Linked DNA regions of Homo sapiens: region 1 is linked to region 2. Evidence: fine-mapped expression QTL. Tissue or cell type: whole blood. Region 2 holds a variant in brackets; the other region holds the start of a gene. All regions are shown on one strand. Distances are between the middles of the regions.

The links. PIP is the estimated chance that this variant, and not a neighbour inherited with it, causes the effect.
Region 1: BTD starts here. The variant in region 2 is fine-mapped to the expression of BTD in whole blood (TOPMed, PIP above 0.99). The same link has a PIP of 0.9 or more in blood mononuclear cells.

What each region holds. Positions count from the first base shown.
Region 1 is chr3:15,596,330-15,606,174 of GRCh38, forward strand. It overlaps BTD (biotinidase), which reads left to right and starts at 5,416. Exons shown (of 4, transcript NM_001370658.1): 1 at 5,416-5,565. It overlaps HACL1 (2-hydroxyacyl-CoA lyase 1), which reads right to left and starts at 5,240. Exons shown (of 17, transcript NM_012260.4): 1 at 5,054-5,240; 2 at 4,761-4,865; 3 at 55-95. The coding sequence starts at 5,134. RefSeq lists an enhancer at 5,145-5,787 and a silencer at 5,629-5,688.
Region 2 is chr3:15,644,432-15,654,896 of GRCh38, forward strand. It overlaps BTD (biotinidase), which reads left to right. Exons shown (of 4, transcript NM_001370658.1): 4 at 1-9,283. The coding sequence ends at 1,057. Among named protein-coding and RNA genes, the nearest start is that of MIR3134, 48 kb to the right of the region's middle. RefSeq lists an enhancer at 2,251-2,784 and a silencer at 3,211-3,505. The variant C/T (reference allele first, on the strand shown) is at 3,120.

The sequences.
Region 1 (9,845 bases), 48 kb before region 2:
ATAGTTCTACCCCAAAATATTAAAGTAATTGAAGTGAAACAAATTTTAGTTTACCTGCTTGTCAGATATCCAATCGCGGAGGCAGCATAACAAGCCTACGAGAAAACAACACTGGGACTTGAGCATATTGGGATCCTTATAGTACATTTATGACAGCAACTTACTATTAAATAATAGACAAGAACATAGTGGTAAAGGCAGAATTAAAATATTTCCAACCTTAGTAATAAATGTTCTACACATAAATTTCAAATAATGGTTATCTAAATTTTAGTTTTTCAGGAAATTTGTTCATATGTATGTTATTCAAAACATCCTCTTACAATTGCTTAAATATCTGCAGGATCAATAGGAATGTCCTCTTTTATTAACAATATTGGTAATTTGTTTTCTTTCTTTTATTCTTCATCAGTCTCATGAGGGGTTTATCAAATTTATCCATCTTTTCAAAGAACAAATTTTTTTAGTTCTTCGAAAATTTTTGTTGGTTTTTCTCTATTGTTTGTTTTCTATTTCATTGATTTCTGTTCTTGTATTTATTATTTCAGTCATTTTGAATTTGATTTGCTTTTCTTTTTCTAGCTTCTTAAAATACAAATTTAGAACACTGGTTTTTAATTTTCTTTACTAATAATTTGTTTAAAATGATTCCAAGAACTGCTTTAGTTATAGGTTACAAGTTTGAGTTGCATCTTTTCATTATCATTCTATTCAAAATATTTTCTACTTTCCATTGTGATTTCTTCTTCAACCCATTGGTTAATTAGGATCTGTAGTGATACCTCCTTTTTCATTCCTGACATTGGTAATCTGTTTTCTCTTTTATTCTCAATCAGTCTATCTTGAAGTTTATTCATTTTGTTAATCTTTTCAAATATTTACAAAATACCAAAAAGTATGTTGCTTAATTTCCAAAGGTCTGAGATTCTTTTTAGTGATCTCTTATTGAGTTCCACTTTACTTCCACATGGTCAGGTGACATATACTGCACGCTTTCAATCCTTGGCGATTTATTGAGATTTCCTTTATGGCCTGCATATGGATAGTTTTTACCTTGTAACTCTACTTCAGCTCATAATCAGGAAGAGAGGGGGCACTAAATTAAATGCACACAAGATAACCTGGGAAAATGCTGAGTGCTCTCTCAAATTCTTCTTAGTCTGGGACATCATTTTTTTCCCAGTATTATTTCTTCTCATTTCTTTAGAAATAATAATGAATTGCGTATTTCCTAGCCTTCATTCAGCTTTAAATGAAGTAGTATACTGTCTTAAAGAACTCCACATTAACGACATAAATGTGGAAAAAAAAAAAAAGGAAATGTTTATGGATCATAATCTTAACTGGCTCTACTATCATACACCCACTGAGAACCTGCACAAAGACTCTGCTCTTTTCCTGTGTCGCTATTCTCTACTGGCCCCATCTCTCTTTCCTTTTGCACATAAGGCCAAATTCACATTAGGAGAATAAGACAACTCCTAAGAAATGCAGGCATGTAAATACCTGCTGCAATAAGAACACTTTATTTAGACACCCAAAAGAATTGCCCACTTATGATAGCTAGGTAAGAAATGTTGCTAGGCAATGCAAAATATACAACAACACGTAACAAAAAGTATATTCCTCTGGTAGGAAATGTCAAAAGTTGAGAGGTAACTGTTTTGTTTTGTTTTATTTTGTTTTGTTTTGTTTTTTTTTTTTGAGACAGAGTTTCGGAGTTTCGCTCTTGTTGCCCAGGCTGGAGTGCAATGATGCAATATTGGCTCACGGCAACCTCCACCTCCCAGGTTCAAGCAATTCTCCTGCCTCAGCTTCCCGAGCAGCTGGCATTACAAACATGCACCACCACGCCTGGCTAATTTTATATTTTTAGAAACGGGGTTTCTCCATGTTGGTCAGGCTGGTCTCAAACTCCTGACCTCAGGTGATCTGCCTGCCTCAGCCTCCCAAAGTGCTGGGATTACAGGCGTGAGCCACCGCGCCTGGCCATAACTGGTTTTATGACCATAAAAGATCTGTTCCTCTACTAAACTACCTCCATTCACAGGCAGAACAGTGTACATGGTACTTAGAGAGTGGACTCTCGAGCCAATCTGTTTTGATTTAAATCCCAGCTTCCCCACTTTCTACTGTGTAATTTTGGCAAGTTGCTCTAAATCTCTGTTTCTTCATCTATAAAATGAAAATAATTCAAAGCACTGCTGTGAGGATGAAATCAGTTCGTATGTGTAAAACACTCAAAATAGTGCCCACACACAGTAAGCTCTCAAGAACAATGAACTTGCTGACAATCTGCCTACTTGCTGGCCAATTGGTCAGTATGTCTTGATTACTCTATGGATCTAATCAAAGACAATGAAGTCACACCCAACTACATCTTTCTCTTTATCACAAACATGTCCTGAATGCCTTAGCCTGTTTTCATGTTCCCTCTGAATCATTCTGTCACTACCCTTAGTTCAGGTACCATTTAAGTCTTCCTTTGACTACCATAGAGTCAGGATGCTTGAGGGACATATGCACTGGGATGTTCCACCAACATCTCAAATGCATGTGTTCAAAATTGAACATCACCTTTCTCCTCCAAGCTGGCTCTTCCCTCTATATTCCCAGTCTCAGTCACAGACAATATGATCTACACAATCAATCAAGTAAGCCCAAAATCTAGGAATCATCTCCAGAGGAGCCTGCCTCCTCTTTCCTAACTGGTTAATGCCTGCTTATCCTTCAGGACAGCTCAGACATCATCTCCTGTGGGAAGCTGAGCCTGGGTACTCCTTCTCTGGGCTTTATAGCACCCTGGATATCTCTCTATCACAGCACTTACCACCTTATAATACAATTGTCTGTGTCTGTCTCCACAGCTTGGCTGTAAGCCCCTTAAAGCCAGGAACTATCATTCATCTCTGTATCCAGCACCCAACACAGCACATGGGACCTAAAGAACCCTCAACTAAGCTTATAGGGGCTGAAATAAAACTTAGAGACAGAGGTCGTGCTATGTTGCCCAGGCAGCCTCTAATTCCTGGACTTGAGTAATCCTCCTGCCTCAGCCCCCTTCGTAGCTGGGATTACTGGCATGTACAACCATGCCTCGCATCATCTTTCTGAAGTACAAATCTAATTACATCGCCCACCTGTTTAGAAAAACCTTTAGTCTCCCCCATTGCCTACTGTTAAAAAAAAAAAAAAATTCAAACTCTTTTTAGATTTCCCACAACCTCCCCTCAACCTACCTACCAGTCTCACAGCTCACCATGCCTTTACCTACCTTGAGGGAACCACATGAACTAACATTACCTCTACAGGCAATCTTCTCTGTCCTCAAAGAGAACCAGTCACCCCTTCTGTGCTACTACATCTATTGTGAGAGTTATAATAGATGAGTCTTTTTCTGTAAGTCTTACCCTCACCTTCCAGGACTGATCAACGTGAAGATCAAGACTAAACCTCACTCCTTCTTTACATCCCTCTCTCCTACAGGTTATGTAGCACAATCCTTAGTATACAGTACTTAGTCAATAAATGTTTGCTGTATGAAGAAATCAGTGGCAGATATGTCATCTCTACAAAAACAGTTAAGTATAGGTTCCATTCATAGGTCAATAGCTTCATTTTTTCACACAGATGAAAGAACAGAATGTTGTTCTAACAAAGACAAGTAAAATGTAGAAGCAACAGAAACTCAAAACCTCCTAGTTTTAAGATTAAAAAATACAAATCTCAAACCTTGTAGATAAAGAATGTCATTCAATAAAGAATGTCATTCAATAAAGAATGTCATTCAATTAATAAATAATGTATAATATTAAGCATCTACACCACGTGAAAGCACAAACCAAGCCAGGCACTGTGGTGATATAACAAATGAATCACAACTTCTGCCCTCCAGGCACTCATGTATGATGGCAAAAGGCACCACTTAGGGTGGCCAGGCAGTTGTTTGGGCAAGAGGAGGCAAGAATTTAAATTAGAAGGCAACGGTGGGAGTGTAAAGCAGGAATATTTAGCCTCAGCTGGACTGAGAGTATGTGATATCACAGAAGTGGATTCTTGACCTTTCAAGCCCGCACTACTGAGAGAAGAGCAAGGTGGATTGGCAGAGGATGCACTTAAAGTGGATTGACAAAACGTCGTATCTTCCTTATCCTGCTTCCAAATAAGCCTCTAAGAAAGGTGGCAGCATGATGTGGTGGAAAAAGCATCAGGCTAGGATCTGAGCCATCTGAGTTTCCATCAAGGCACTACCATTTGTGATATCCTCCACCCTGCCCCGAACCAATCATACAACAAAGCCTTGGCCTTCACTCATTTATCCCACAGGTAATCTCTGAACACCTTTCTTATGCAGGCACCACACTAAGCACTGGGGGTACAGATGTGTCGTGAAGAAATAATATCCCTGCTCTAATGGAGCTTGTAGCCTAATAGGGAAGTCAGACTTTACTCATAAACTGTCCATTCCAATCATGACATACAGTATAGTAGTAAGAGAATGGACTCAGACCCAGAATACGTGGGTTCAAACCCTGGCTCTGCTACTACCAGCTGTGTCACCAAAGGCAAGTTTTACTTAACCTGTGTCTTTTCTCATCTGTCAACTTGGTGTAACAACAGTTAATATTCAACAGTGATTGATATGATATATGTAAAGTAGCAGAAGAGTGGTAAGCGCTATCTGGGTGTTTGCAATGCATACCTACCGCTATTACTGATCATTCCCAGTAACGCATTCAGCCACCTGAGTCCATACTCACCGCTTGCTCATTCCTCATCCCGATGTACTTGATGCCTAGCTGCTGGGCAGCAATGGCGATTTCGGTCACTGGGATGCCTACGATGCCAAATATGTACTCCACATCCTGAGGAACGAAGAACAGGGGAGTAAACTCCCAAGGCCCCACCATATCGCCACATCCTTCCCTCCCTCCCGGGCGCTAAAAGGAAAACCCCCCGACCCCCATCGCCCATTTCTACTCGTCTCCAAGACAACATCGCGGTCCCCGCCAGCTTCCGTAGGAGCCTTTCATTCCAGGAAGGTCCATCGTACTTGCGTTTTCAGGGCCTGAGCGATGACTTTAGCACCAGACACCTGCTCCTCGCTGCGCTCTGCGAAGTTACTGTCCGGCATCTTCCACCGAAAAGCTCTAAGCACTCACGCAGCCGGCAAACAAGCGGAATCATCCAGCAAGGCAAACGCGAAATCGGCAGCACGCCACCTCTGGTACTGCACCTCTGACGGACAGGAGGGCAACCAACTGCCTTAAACAACGGGAAGGAAGAGGCGGTCTAAATTCGTCCACTTCCCGGGAGAGGTGAGAATGTAAACACGCGCGTTCTCCAATCAGAACTGCGCTCTCTTCTCGGCTCCTCCATTCGCGCGCCAGAATGCCAGAGGGAGGCGGGACTAGCAGGAGATTGCTGCCTATGCAAAGCAGGTAAGAAGCCGAACTCTGAGGCCTCTCGCCATTGTCTCCGAGTCGGCCAGCTGGAGCGTTTTCGGGGCTGTAAAGGGAGAATGGCGCATGCGCATATTCAGGGCGGAAGGCGCGCTAAGAGCAGGTACGGAGGGGGCGTGGTGCGGCGCGGAGGGGGTGTGGTAAGGGCGTGCGGTCCAGACCCCGCCCCGGGCGCCCAGTTGGACTTGGGGAGGGCTGCGCAAAGGCTGCCGGGAGCTGGGAAGCCCGGCGCGCGTCGTTTGCTGGGGCTGTTTGTGCGTTGCTGCTGTGCTACCGCGTTGCGTTTTCTAGGCATTTACTTACACGCTTTGTGGTTTACGCTCTCATAACCTTGTGGTTTTATAGTCCTTAAATTATTGTAGCGCACGTTACTTAAATCCAGAAGCAGATGTGTACCCCAGCAAGAGATAAAATGACGCTCAGAGTCAGTAGATCCAGACCGTGCCTGAGATCCTGAATCCTGTTTCCTACCCACTATTCAGCCATTGGGTCACAAGCGATGAAAAGAGCACCTTGAAGGTAGTATAGAGCACTGTTTTCTCCAGCCCTTGCTACTAATCCATATTACTCTCCGCTAATATCTTTCCAAAATTAGGAACTATGGCGTTTCATAATTCTTAGGTTGGGTCCCTACCTACAACCAGCCCTGCACCCGATAGCCTTTTAAAACATTTTTGTGTGAAAATCGTTTGCAATGTGCAATATCTGAAACTACTGCCTTGGAGTCATTAGACCCTCTGCTCAGTGACAATAAACATAAAATTTCCAATTGTAATAAACAGTGGAACTTTTAATTTTTTGAGGATTTGGAGTCATTTTAAGCAAAAAGAACAGTGATAAGTGGACAGTAAAGAGATGAGAGGGGAGTGGGTCATGGGTAGTGAAATGAGTGAGAAGCACTGGAAGTGAAACGATTTCTAAACCCAGACATTTTCAAACTGTAGTCCTGGGTCTTTTCAAAAGGTCTTCCCCTCTTTTTCTCAACCCCTCAACCCCACCCCAAGCAGAGGAGAGTGAAGTGGTTGCCTCCCTGCATATGTGGACGGTGTTAGTCCATTTTCATACTGCTATAAAGAAATACCCAAAACTGGGTAATTTATAAAGAAAAAGAGGTTTAATGGTCTCACAGTTCCAAATGGCTACGGAGGCCTCACAATCATGGCAGAAGGTGAAGGAGGAGCAAAGGCATGTCTTACATGGTGGCAGGCAAGAGAGCGTGTGCAGGGGAACTGCCCTTTATAAAACCATCAGATCTCATGAGACTTACTATCATTAGAACAGCATGGGAAAAATCCCCTCCCCATGATTCAGTTACTTCCCACTGGGTCCCTCTCACCACATGTGGGGATTATGGGAGCTATAATTCAAGATGAGATTTGGATGAGGACACAGCCAAACTGTTCTGCCCCTGGCCCCTCCCAAATATCATATCCTCACATTTCAAAACCAATCATGCCTTCCCAACAGTCCCCCAAAGTCTTAACTCATTTCAGCATTAACTCGAAAGTCCACAGTCCAGAGTTTCATCTGAGACAAGGCAAGTCCCTTCCGCCTATGAGCCTGTAAAATCAAAAGCAAGCTAGTGGCTGGGCGCAGTGGCTCACACCTGTAATCCCAGCACTTTGGGAGGCCGAGGCGGGCGGATCATGAGGTCAAGAGATGGAGACCATCCTGGTCAACACGGTGAAACCCTATCTCTACTAAAAATACAAAAAATTAGGCGGGCATGGTGGCAGGCGCCTGTAATCCCAGCTACTCAGGAGGCTGAGGCAGGAGAATGGTGTGAACCCGGGAGGCAGAGCTTGCAGTGAGCTGAGATTGGGCCACTGCACTCCAGCCTGGGGGACAGATCGAGACTCCGTCTCAAAAAAAATAATAAAATTAAATTTAAAAATAAATAAATAAAAGCAAGATAGTTACTTCCTAGATACAATGGGTGCACGGGAGTGAGGTAAATATACCCGTTCCAAATGGGAGAAATTGGTCAAGACAAAGGGGCTAAAGCCCCCATGCAAGTTCAAAATCTGGCAGGGCAGTCAAATATTAAAGCTCCAAAATGATCTTTGGATCATTTTGACTTCGTATCTCACAGCCAGATCATGCTGATGCAAGAGGTGGGCTCCCACAGCCTTGGGCAGCTCTGCCCTTGTGGTTTTACAGGCTACAACCCCCTCTCCCAGCTGCTTTCACAGGCTAATATTGAGTGTGTGCAGCTTTTCTAGGCACATGGTGCAAGTGGTCAGTAGATCTACCATTCTGGGGTCTGGAGGACGGTGGCCCTCTTCTCACAGTTCCACCAGCAGTGCCCCAGGAGGGACTCTGTATGGGGGCTCCCACCCCACATTTCCCTTCCACACTGCCCTAGCAGAGGTTCTCTATGAGGGCTCTACCCCTGCAACAAGCTTCTGCCTGGACATCCAGGCATTTCCATACATCCTCTGAAATCTAGGCAGAGGTTCCCAAACCTCAATTTTTGACTTCTGTGCACCTGCAGGCTCAACACCATGTGGAAGCTGCCAAGGCTTCAGGCTTGCACTGTCTGAAGCCAGGCCTGAGCTGTACATTGGCCCTTTTTAGCCATGGCTGGCATGGCTGGGATGCAGGACACCAAGTCCCTAGGCTGCAAACAGCAGGGGGACCCTGGACCTGACCCATGAAACCATTTTTCCTCCTAGGTTTCTGGGCCTGTGATGGGAGGGCCTGTTGTGAAGGTCTCTGACATGCCCTGGAGACATTTTCCCCATTGTCTTGGTGATTAATAGTTAGCTTCTTATTACCTATGCAAATTTCTGCTGCCAGCTTGAATTTCTCCCTAGAAAATGGGTTTTTATTTTCTACTGCATCGTCAGTCTGCAGATTTTTCAAATTTGTATGCTCTGCTTCCTCTGGAACACTTTGCCATTTAGAAATTTCTTCTGCCAGATACCCTAAATCATCTCTCTCAAGTTCAAAGTTCCACAGATCTCTAGGACAGGGGCAAAATGCCACTAGTCTCTTTGCATAGCAAGAGTGACCTTTACTCCAACTCTGAATAAGTTCCTCATCTCCATCAGAAACCACTTCAGCCTGAATTTTATTGTCCATATCACTATCAGCATTTTGGTCAAAGCCATTCAATAAGTCTCTAGGAGGTTCCAAACTTTCCCACATTTTCCTGTCTTCTGAGCCCTCCAAGTCTCTAGGAAGTTCCAGACTTTCCCACATTTTCCTATCTTCTTCTGAGCCCTCCAAACTGTTCCAACTTCTGCCAGTTACCCAGTTCCAAAGTTATTTCCACAGTTTCGGCTGTCTTTACAGTAGTGCCCCACTCTCTGCATTACCAATTTTCTGTGTTAGTCCCTTTTCATACTGCTATGAAGAAATACTCAAAACTGGGTAATTTATAAAGAAAAAGAGGTTTAATAGATTCACAGTTCCACATGGCTGGAGAGACGTCACAATCATGGTGGAAGATGAAGGAGGAGCAAAGGCACGTCTTACATGGCGACAGGCAAGAGAGTGTGTGCAGGGAAACTCCCATTTATAAAACCATCACAGCTTGAGACTTATTTGCTATCACAAGAACAGCATGGGAAAAACCCTCCCCAATGATTCAGTTACCTCCCACCAGGTACCGCTCATGATATGTAGGGATTATGGGAGCTATAATTCAAGATGAGATTTGAGTGGGGACATAACCAAACCATATCAGGGACCCATCTCAGAGGGTGACTTCTTTCAAGTCTCAGAGTGTATCTAAAAAGAAAATGCAGATTTTGTATTATACTCTAGAATGTATCCATATTTTAATTTTAAAATGACATTTATTGAGATATAATAAAGATACAATTCAATGTCCAGATTTTAAATGTTAGATGAGTTTTGACAGTTATATATATATATATCTATGAAATCACCACCCAAAATAAAAATGACATTTTAAACTGCTTACCTGTCAAGTAAAATTGACATTCCAGAAAGATGTGAAACGGGCTGGGCACAATGGCTCATGCCTGTAATCCCAGCACTTTGGGAGGCCGAGGTGGGCAGATCATCTGAGGTCAGGAGTTCGAGGCCAGCCTGGCCAATGTGGTGAAACCCCATCTCTGCTAAAATACAAAAATTATCCAGGTGTGGTGGCACATGCCTGTAATCCCAGCTATTCGGGAGACTGAGGTGGGAGAATCGTGTGAGCCAGGGAGGTAGATGTTGCAGTAAACCAAGATTGCACCACTGTACTCTAGCCTGGGTGACAGAGCGAGACCCTGTCTCAAAAAAAAAAAAAAAAAAAAAAAAGATGTGAAATCATCTTTGCACTTTGAGTAGTCCTTGACACAATGCCTCCTGTCCTTGTTGAAGAAGTACAGACTTCCCCTTCCATCATGTATTATTTATATCAGTACC
Region 2 (10,465 bases):
CCAGTTCAACACAAATGTCGTGTTCAGCAATAATGGAACCCTTGTTGACCGCTACCGTAAACACAACCTCTACTTTGAGGCAGCATTCGATGTTCCTCTTAAAGTGGATCTCATCACCTTTGATACCCCCTTTGCTGGCAGGTTTGGCATCTTCACATGCTTTGATATATTGTTCTTTGACCCTGCCATCAGAGTCCTCAGAGACTACAAGGTGAAGCATGTTGTGTACCCAACTGCCTGGATGAACCAGCTCCCACTCTTGGCAGCAATTGAGATTCAGAAAGCTTTTGCTGTTGCCTTTGGCATCAACGTTCTGGCAGCTAATGTCCACCACCCAGTTCTGGGGATGACAGGAAGTGGCATACACACCCCTCTGGAGTCCTTTTGGTACCATGACATGGAAAATCCCAAAAGTCACCTTATAATTGCCCAGGTGGCCAAAAATCCAGTGGGTCTCATTGGTGCAGAGAATGCAACAGGTGAAACGGACCCATCCCATAGTAAGTTTTTAAAAATTTTGTCAGGCGATCCGTACTGTGAGAAGGATGCTCAGGAAGTCCACTGTGATGAGGCCACCAAGTGGAACGTGAATGCTCCTCCCACATTTCACTCTGAGATGATGTATGACAATTTCACCCTGGTCCCTGTCTGGGGAAAGGAAGGCTATCTCCACGTCTGTTCCAATGGCCTCTGCTGTTATTTACTTTACGAGAGGCCCACCTTATCCAAAGAGCTGTATGCCCTGGGGGTCTTTGATGGGCTTCACACAGTACATGGCACTTACTACATCCAAGTGTGTGCCCTGGTCAGGTGTGGGGGTCTTGGCTTCGACACCTGTGGACAGGAAATCACAGAGGCCACGGGGATATTTGAGTTTCACCTGTGGGGCAACTTCAGTACTTCCTATATCTTTCCTTTGTTTCTGACCTCAGGGATGACCCTAGAAGTCCCTGACCAGCTTGGCTGGGAGAATGACCACTATTTCCTGAGGAAAAGTAGGCTGTCCTCTGGGCTGGTGACGGCGGCTCTCTATGGGCGCTTGTATGAGAGGGACTAGGAAAAGTGTGTGGTCTGTGGGGCGGACTCTGGCCATCATGTTGACAGCCTTGCACTTCCACAGGCTACAAGCCCTGGGACCATCTTTCTGCCTTAAGGGCAGGAGCCCACTTCTGTGGCACCAGATTCCACCCTGGGAACTGTGGAAAAAGTAGGAGAGGCAGATTCCCTCAGTGTCTTCCTCTTAAACCTCAATCATCGAGACATTAGGGGGTATTTTCTGTTCACATTTATCTTTTTCAAGCCACATCTTCCTCTAACAAATCTCTCAGTATGCGATTGGTCTCAAGCTAAAACAAAAATAAATGTCAGTTTATATTTTACACATCCACAAAGCAGTGGCTTGGGGTTTTTTTTTTTTTTTTTATCTTGTTGATCAAGTGACACCCAGGACATGTAAATATTTCATAAGCCTTAAACATTTCCTGAGGTAAGAAACAAGCTCTCAAAGCAAAAGCTCAATTAGAAATGGCCCTTGTGGGGAACCTTCCCATTCTGGTCGACCAGAACTCTAGCCAGATGAAATGGCAATGCTAGCGCCACCAGCAACGTCAGAAACGTAGACCTTAAAGCGGCTTTTAAAAATAGAAAAGAAGCGTTCCTCACATCTGCCAGTAATGGAATTTTCTGTCAGTAAATGGAATGTGTAGGCAGGACCTGGAATAACTGGAGAGAGTGCAACGCTTCGGGGTGAAGGGCGGGTGGGGACTGGAAATGTTGAGACGGGGGCAGCCATGGGAAGGTATGAGTAATAGAATTCTTTCTGTACGACACAGCTCATCCAGGGATTCCAGGGACCTTAATAAATCACGGTAGCTTTGGGCAAGAGTTGGGCACGTTGCCCGACTGTGCAGGATGGATTGATGCTGGTATAATTTGATCTGGAGCCCTATAGAGGATCTCGTTGCTTTGCAGCGATGCCTGGCACCCCATAGAGATAAGTTGCAGGGACTGCCGTGAAGGGCATGAAGGGTGGCCCACTTTAGTCATGCATTTATTCAATCACCCAACAGGCACAGAGCAGGAGCTTCCCATGTTAGGAATTCCAGATGCAAAATTATCAGACTCAATATGGTGAAGACATTTTTAGGCCACTGATTTCTGTGTAATTTGTGTCCAATATTTCAAAGCCATTTAAAAAAGGATTTTGACTGCATGCCTAGTAGCTGTTTCAGATCATTTTTTAAGTACAGAATGGATAATTAGTCTTCAGTGATTTGCCTCTTAAATGTGGCCATTTAGTTTGAACTCCTTTTTAGTTATTTTAAACAGTATATGCTTAAACATCACACGATTTTATAAAGCAAGAAAAATGAAATGATCTCCCTATTCCCCCACGGTGTAGGCCTCCAGATCCTTTTCTGGCTTTTAGGCAGGACAATTAACAATGTGGATTCTGCAGTCAGACTGATGGGGTTTCCATGCATGGCCTCACCATTAACTCCTCACTGGGGAGACCTTGGGCCTCGGTTTTTTATTCATAGAATGCATGTTGAATAAACCATGTGGGAAAAAGCAGAGCCAGCACCAGCCCCTGCTGACTCACTGATCCCTCGGAAAGGTCTGGGATGAGTCAAGTCTTCAGGGAATAAGCAGCAAGGACTTGGAATTCCTGAGCAAGCCTTGGGTTCCCCACGCCCTAGGAAGTCCCTCTGGAAGGGGAGCAGGACCTCTCCCACCAGATGACGGAGTTCGCTTTCTCGCCCAGCGCAGCTCCCACCAGGCGTGAGCTGGCAGTCCAGAAGCGGCCCCAGATGTGGCTACCCACCGCCCAGTCTGCTTCCCTGCCTCAAACCCCAGGGAGACAGAAATTACCTAAAAATGCATATCATTGCCTTATGCCAAGATGATTCAAATAAGCCTGAGAAAGAGAGGCCAGCGCTAAATACAGACTTGGCAGAACTACTTCACCCAGTAAACATCTAATCAGCACCTGCAGGATCCTCATTCTGCCCTTCTGGGCAGAGCACCACGAACTTTCCCTGAGTTATTTTCTACCAACAATTTAGAATGAATTGCTCGTGAAGTAGAAATGAGGGGAAAAGCAACTAATGGTGGTAGAA[C/T]AAAGTAATTTTTACAATTAAAAGAAGTAGCTGCCAGATGACAGAACAAAGTAGAGGACGGGAAAATAAATCATTTTCAGGGAAAAAATATATCTATGACTAATGGTTGTGATTATGTTTTTGTCGATTGTGATCCTGAAACTCAGGAAGCAAATGGCAATCTTGACCACAACATGGAGACAGGAAATCAAATGCATTTTTGGCTAAACCAGACTTGGGGGAAGTGGCTTGGTTTGCGTGGTTTCTCATGTAGGTGCAGCTGTGCTTTTCTGTGGTTTTTCTCACACGGGAAGTGAGAGGCACAGTGAGCTGTATTCACACTGGATTTAAAAGCCCTGTTCTTAGAGAGGAAAAAACCAGGCCTCCTCACAGACTGCCAAGTCCCAGAGCCCACCATGTCTGCTCTCAAGACACAGGCCTGTCCAGAGCCCCTGCTGAGGGAAACCCACCCAGGCCACTTTTCCCCACAGGTGGCCCTGCTTGGTACCTGTGCCCCCACCCCCCAGCCATGGTATATTGAACCAGGAGGAGGCACCCAGCCCAAGGCCAGCCAATCAGAGCACTGGCTAGTAGCCCAGGAGGTGTCCCTGCACAGAAGATCTCCTCAGAGAGGACCGATGGTGAGTCGGCCGCTCTTGATTCTCAATGAAACTCAGAACCGCTCAAGTGAAATGACCACTCAAAGAACAATTTCTCAACAAAGTGGATTTATATAGGACAAAATAGGCATAAAAGTATGAAATGTTTTGTGCACAAAGGCCTAGATTTGAGACAAGAGCTGATGTGGCCTGAAGATCTGTGAGTGGGACTGCTTGGGAGGCCATGTTCCTTCTCAGGCCAGAGAAAGGTCCTGGTCTCCTGGCTTCAGTCTTTCATTCCCTAACCTCCCTTTGAATGTTAGTTACCTATTCCCACATAACAAAGTGCCCCAAAACTTAATGGCATAAAACAAGCATGGACATTGTTAGTTCACCCAGTTCTGTGGGGCAGGAAAGCGGGTCTCTCATGAGGCTACAGTCAAGATGTCAGCCGAGGTGACAGTGAAGATATCAACCAAGGCTGCAGCCGGTTGAAGGCCTCACTGGATTTGGAGAATATTATTGATTAAATTGCGTCTTCCCCAAAAAAGATACGTTGTAGTCCTAACCCCCAATAGCTCAGAATGTGGCCTTATTTGGAAATAGGGTCTTTGCAGATGCAATGAAGATATAAGTTAAAATGAGATCACACTAGAGTAACTGGGCCCTTAATCCAATATGACATGTCCTTATCAGAAGAGGAGAAGACACACACACAGGGAGAAGATGACCATGTGACAACAGGGGCAGAGATCACAGGGATGCCTCTACTAGACAAGGCACACCAGAAATTGCTTGCCAACAAACACCAGAAATTAGAAGAGGCAAGAAACAACTCCCCACACACAACCCACCCCTGCAGGTTTCAGAAGAAGCATGGCTCTGCCAACACCTTGATTTTGGATTTCCAGCTTCCACAACTATGAGACAATAAGTTTCTGTTGTTTGAAGCCACCCAGTTCAGGGTACTTTGATATGGCAGACCTAGGAAACAAATACAGAGGATCACTTGCAAAATGGCCCATTCACACAGCTGGCACGTTGGTGCTGGCTGCTAGCAAAAGGTCTCAGCTCCTCACCACTTGGGTCTTTCCATAGGGATAGCTGAGTGTCCTCATGATGTGGCCCCTGGCTTCCCCTGAAGCAAATGATCCAAGAGAGCACAGGTGGAGCCATGATGTCTTTTATTAACTAGTCTCAGAAGTCACACTGCATCATTTGGCACCATCTTATTGAGTTACACAGGTCAGCCCTGCTCCCTATGGAAAGAGACAGAGGGTGTTAGATGCCCAGAGGTGAACCTCATTGGGTACCATCCTGCAGGTGGGCTGCCACTCTGCTCAATCCAAATCACAGCTCTCCCGTTTCTCACCTCCCAACAGTTGCTGTTCCTCAGGCCAAAGTTCACATTCTGCACAGCCTCAGCTCCGCCTGACCTCTGAGCTCACATGATGGCCCTTACTGTGAACCTGGGTTTCTGGTCCAGCCATAGCTACTTCTTTAAGCTCCTCCAGTGTGCTGAGCACAGTCTGGCCCCTGTACTGTTGTCTGCTTGAAATGGCGTCTTCTGATGAACACTCATCCATCCTTCAAGGTCTACTCTCTCATCACAGCTTGTGACTCTTCCACTTTTTGAACTGGTGTTTCCCATTCCCAGTTCACAGAGCCCTTTCTCATTGAACTATTTATCTGAGTTCCCTCTGCCGGAACATGAGCCATGCCTAGAGTAGCCACCTAGTAGTGAGTGACAGCTCTGTGCTGGATGCACATAAATGGTCTCCCTTAACTGCCATGAGCCCTAAAGAAGGTTTGCTACAGCTATTTTACAGATGGGGAAAACTGACAGAGAGATATTAATGAATTGCCCACATGCAAATATGTGCTGAGTCTTGGATTTGCATCTTTATCGTGACTCCACGGAGACCCACCCTCTAAGACCAGAGCCAGTGTCCTATTCATCTTTTGTCTCTGCAGCGTTCAGCATGGCACTGTCTTGGCTTACAAAATCTGCTCTATGCTTGCTGACTGCTGAATGAATGAATGAATGAATAGGTAGTCACAAAGAATGTTTAGAATGTTTCTCAGACAGGCTGAGAAAAAACACAACGAAACATTATTTCCGTTTGGAAAGTTTTTTTATTTTTGTGTTCAGTACTGAAGTAAAACAAAAATCTGAATAACAGCTGCACCGTTAAAAATGAAATTACCAATATATGAACTCTAGGCATCATGCATATATAATTTTTTGTAGATAACTTTTCTTCTCATTTTCCTTCTCATTCTCTTCATCTTTTTCTTTTTGTTTGAGCAAAAAAAAAAAAGAATATATTAACTCGTAACTGGGGAGTCTAAGAATAAATTCTCTTCAGCCATTGCTGAATCTAGGGGCTCAAATGGTGTCTCTGGACACAGTATCACACTCTACTCTGCACTCTTCTTTATCATTTTCTCCCACAGACAGACTCTCGTGTAGTTGCAACAATGGCCATGACTTCTAGGCTTCATCTGCCCCTCTCAGCAGCTCTAGAGAAGAAGCTCCTCTTTTTACACAGTCCCTAATTAAAGTCTCAGAGATGAACAACCTGGGCTCTTGCTTAGGGCACGTGCCCATCCTGAATCAATGATCGGCCAGAGAGCTGTGATATTCTTTTGTTTTTTTGAGATGGAGTCTTGCTCTGTCGCCCGGGCAGGAGTGCAATGGCATGATCTCGGCTCACTGCAAGCTCTGCCTCCCGAGTTCAAGCGATTCTCCTGCCTCAGCCTTCCGAGTAGCTGGGACTACAGGCACGTGCCACCACGCCCAGCTAATTTTTTGTATTTTTATAGAGACAGGGTTTCACCATGTTAGCCAGGATGGCCTCGATCTCCTGACCTCATGATCTGCCTGCCTCAGCCTCCCAAAGTGCTGGGATTACAGGCGTGAGCCACCGTACCCGGCCAGGGCTGTGATATTCTGATCAGCCAGCACTGAGTCACATGGCCACTATTAGGGTGAGGGATGATAGGCTTAGCTCTGACCTGAAATTCATGGATTGAGGGGTGGGGACTGTTTCCCAGGGGAACACTGGGACAGCGTTACCAGGGGAAGGGGAGTGGGATATAGTTGGGCCAAAACAGTAAATGTCCACGAGGCTTTTTTCCTCTGAGCAGAAATTTCACTGTGATGCCAGTCAGGTATTGCTGCCGTAAGGGCCATAGCAGGAGGGAGACTGCAAATCTTGATTGAGGAGATCTTAAGAACAGAGTGATTTACACAGCTGTGGGCAGGATGTAGGGGAACCCAGAAAGGATAATGCACTACCCAGCGGCCAGCGACAGCAGGAGCTATGAGCACCCCAGGCCTGAAGGTGTGAAGGGCTGAAATGGTTACCAGAAGCAGGAGAGGGAAGCTTATGGAGAGAGCAGGCTGGCGGGAGCAGGGGCTGTGAGAGAGACAGCCAGACCGTAGCGGTGTGACAGGCAGAGAGCCAGGCGATCCATATCCTGTCTCCTCTCTCTTCTCCGCTCCTGACTCCTGCTGCGGCCTCCCACTGGCTGGACCCAACAGGAAAGCAGAGGATAAGAGAATCTGGTTGGTGCTATCTAGAAGTCAGTGTTGGGGAGGTCACAGAACAGAATGGAGAGGGGTAGAGTATGCAGGGAAGATAAATGCAGCCCTGGCATGGTTCTTCCAGAACATTCTGCAAGCTCATGGACCAGTTCATTTGAGAAGAAATAGAGGAGTTAGGGGAGAGAGAAGCTTCTTAATGAAAATAACCTTGGTAGCTAGTCTCAAGATTAGCCCCCAGTGCTCCCCACCTGCTGGTATCCGTTGTACAACACTTCCCACATTTTTCTGGGGTCGTTTTGTGTAACCAATAAAATATGGCAGATGCGATGGCATGTTACTTCTGAAATTGGGTTATAAAAGGTACTGCAGACCGGGCACGGTGGCTTACGCCTGTAATCCCAGCACTTTGGGAGGCCAAGCCTGGCGGATCACAAGGTTAGGAGTTCAAGACCAGTCTGGCCAATATGGTGAAACCCTGTCTCTATTGAAAATACAAAAATTAGCCGGCATGGTGGCACACGCCTGTAGTCCCAGCTAGTCGGGAGGCTGAGGCAGAAGAATCGCTTGAACCCGGGAGGCGGAGGTTACAATGAGCTGAGATAGCACCACTGCACTCCAGTCTGGGCAACAGAGCGACACTCCGTCTCCAAAAAAAAAAGATACTGCAGCTTCTATCTTGGTTGCTCACTTGCTATCTTGGGTCCCTCCCTCTGGGGAAAGCCAGTTGCCATCTCCCAAGGATCCCTATGGACAGACCCATTTGGCAAGGAACAGCCACCAGCTAGCTGCATGAGCGAGCCATGTTGGAAGTGGGTCCTCCAGCTGCAGTCAAGCTTCCAGATGACCACTGCCCTGGGAAACGACTGCAACCTCATGAGAGACCCTGAGCCGGAACCACCCCACAAAGTCACTCTTGATTTCCTAAGTCTCAGAAACTATAAAATATAAATGTGTGTTGTTTTAAAATCCTAGGTTTTGAGGTAATTTATTATACAGCAATAGAAAACTAATACAATAGTCTTGCTACCAGCACCTTAATCTCCCACATCCAAGTTAAAATTCATCCAACACTCAATCTCCCAGCTATCCTGACTGCTCCTATACAGGTATCTCTCCCACTATATATATATCAAGTGCTATTAGTGGCTATTATTTGTTGGGTTACACAAAGCCAGAAATCATCTACATCTACTCTCTTTTCTTCTGGTTTTGAATAGCAAAATGCAACAGGGAGATGTTCTCAGATAGAGGGAGAACAACAAAAAGAAGGGTCCATGCTGAACAAACTTGTTTGCTTTGAAATCGGAAGTTCTAGAGGAGGTATTCTGACAGTGGCCAGGAAAACCTCCTGCCCGCAGAATTTTGTCTAATCCACCCCAGACAGAGTTATCCAACAGCCTGGTATGGTGCAGACCAGGGGCTCTCGAAAGGTGGGCTCCAGGCAGCAGCACCAGTAGCACCTGGGAAATTGTTGGAAATGCAAATTCTTGGGCTCCACCCCAGATCAACTTAATCGGACTCTCTGGGAGTAGGGCCCATCAATCTGTGTTTAACAAGTCCTCCAGGTGATTCCGATCCTAATCAAGTGTGAGCCCACTGTCTAATGCGGTGCATACCAAAGCAGGTGCACGGGTCTTAATCATCACCTCAGTCCTCTGAAACAGGCAAGTGTGTCCATTTTACAGAAGAAGGAACTAAGGCCTGGAAGGCAAGTCCTTGCCTGAGACTAAACAGAATCCCAGCAACATAGGACGAGGCTGGAATTCCCACACCTGGACTAATGCACAGCCAGTGTTTCAACGTCGCCAACCCAGAAATGTTTTCTCTCCCTGTCATGCTAATTTTCAGCCCTTTCTGGGTGACTTGTTCATCATCCAAATATATTATTTTTGTTTTGTTTGACTAAAGGCAATTATATTTACATTTTCTCTAAGTACTGGAATGTAATGGTTGAAATTCCTATTCAGTGATCTGGAAGAACTCTAATGTTCTAAAGTGATTCTTTGATAATTAAAGAAAGATGTAATTATGTATAATGTGATTTGTAAGATAAGGTATAACTTTGGGGGTGTTCTAATTCTTTAAAAATTGTTGATCCGACTATGGATGTCTTGCAACTCTCAAAAAATCACGTGTGAAAGTTAAGCATTAGTTCCGTGTAAAATACTGTGCTAGAAATTGTGGAGGATGCAAAGTCACATAAGACTGTTACTGTTTTTTAAAATTTATTTTTTAAAATAGAGACAGGGTTTCTCCATATTGGCCAGGCTGAATCTCAAGTGATCTGCCTGCTTTGGCCTCCCAAAGTGTTGGGATTACAGGCGTGAGCCACTGCGCCCGGCCAAGACTGTTACCTTTAGCGAGAGCTTATTATCACCTAGTGTTCATATAAACATGGGATTTAAATACACACACAACCCCCAAAACAAATTGCTAAAAGATATTTGTGCAGATTTTATTTTTCCAAATGGCTACAACAGTATTTGAAGAACTAACAAGTTTAAAAATGTAAAAGGCCAGTAAGGCAACATTGGGCACTGGGGCAAGTGAAGGGGAGGGAAGGAGCATGGAGTCAGGGGAGAGGGCATTGGCTGGTTCTGCAGGCTCTGCAGGCTGGGGGAAGAGTTAGGGTTTATGTGGGCAGACAGCATTGCAGGGGATTAGGCAGGGGAATAACATGGTCATTTAAAATGATTCTTCTGGCTGATGACAGGTTTTCAGATGCTTCACCTCCTCCTAAGTCAGTCACACCTCATATCCAAGCCATGAGGACTCACTGAGGGGAATGTAATAAATAGCTATTTAAGGGAAAAATAACAATTAAAAAATCTATAATAGCAGTTTAAGGGACAAAAACCAAAACATTTCTTTGGAATTATTCATGTTAAGCTTAACATTTTCTAATATAGTCCTGCATCCTTTTTTTTGTTTTTGAGATGAAGTCTCACTCTGTGGCAATCTTGGCTCACTGCACCCTCTGCCTCCCGGGTTCAAGCGATTCTCCTTCCTCAGCCTCCTGAATAACTGGGATTACAGGCATCTGCCACCACACTTGGCTAATTTTTTTTTTTTTTAGATGGAATTTTGCACTTGTTGCCCAAGCTGGAGTACAATGGCATGATCTTGGCTCACTGCAACCTCTGCGTCCCGGGTTCAAGCAATTCTCCTGCCTCAGCCTCCCATGTAGCTGGGATTACAGGCATGCGCCACCATACCCG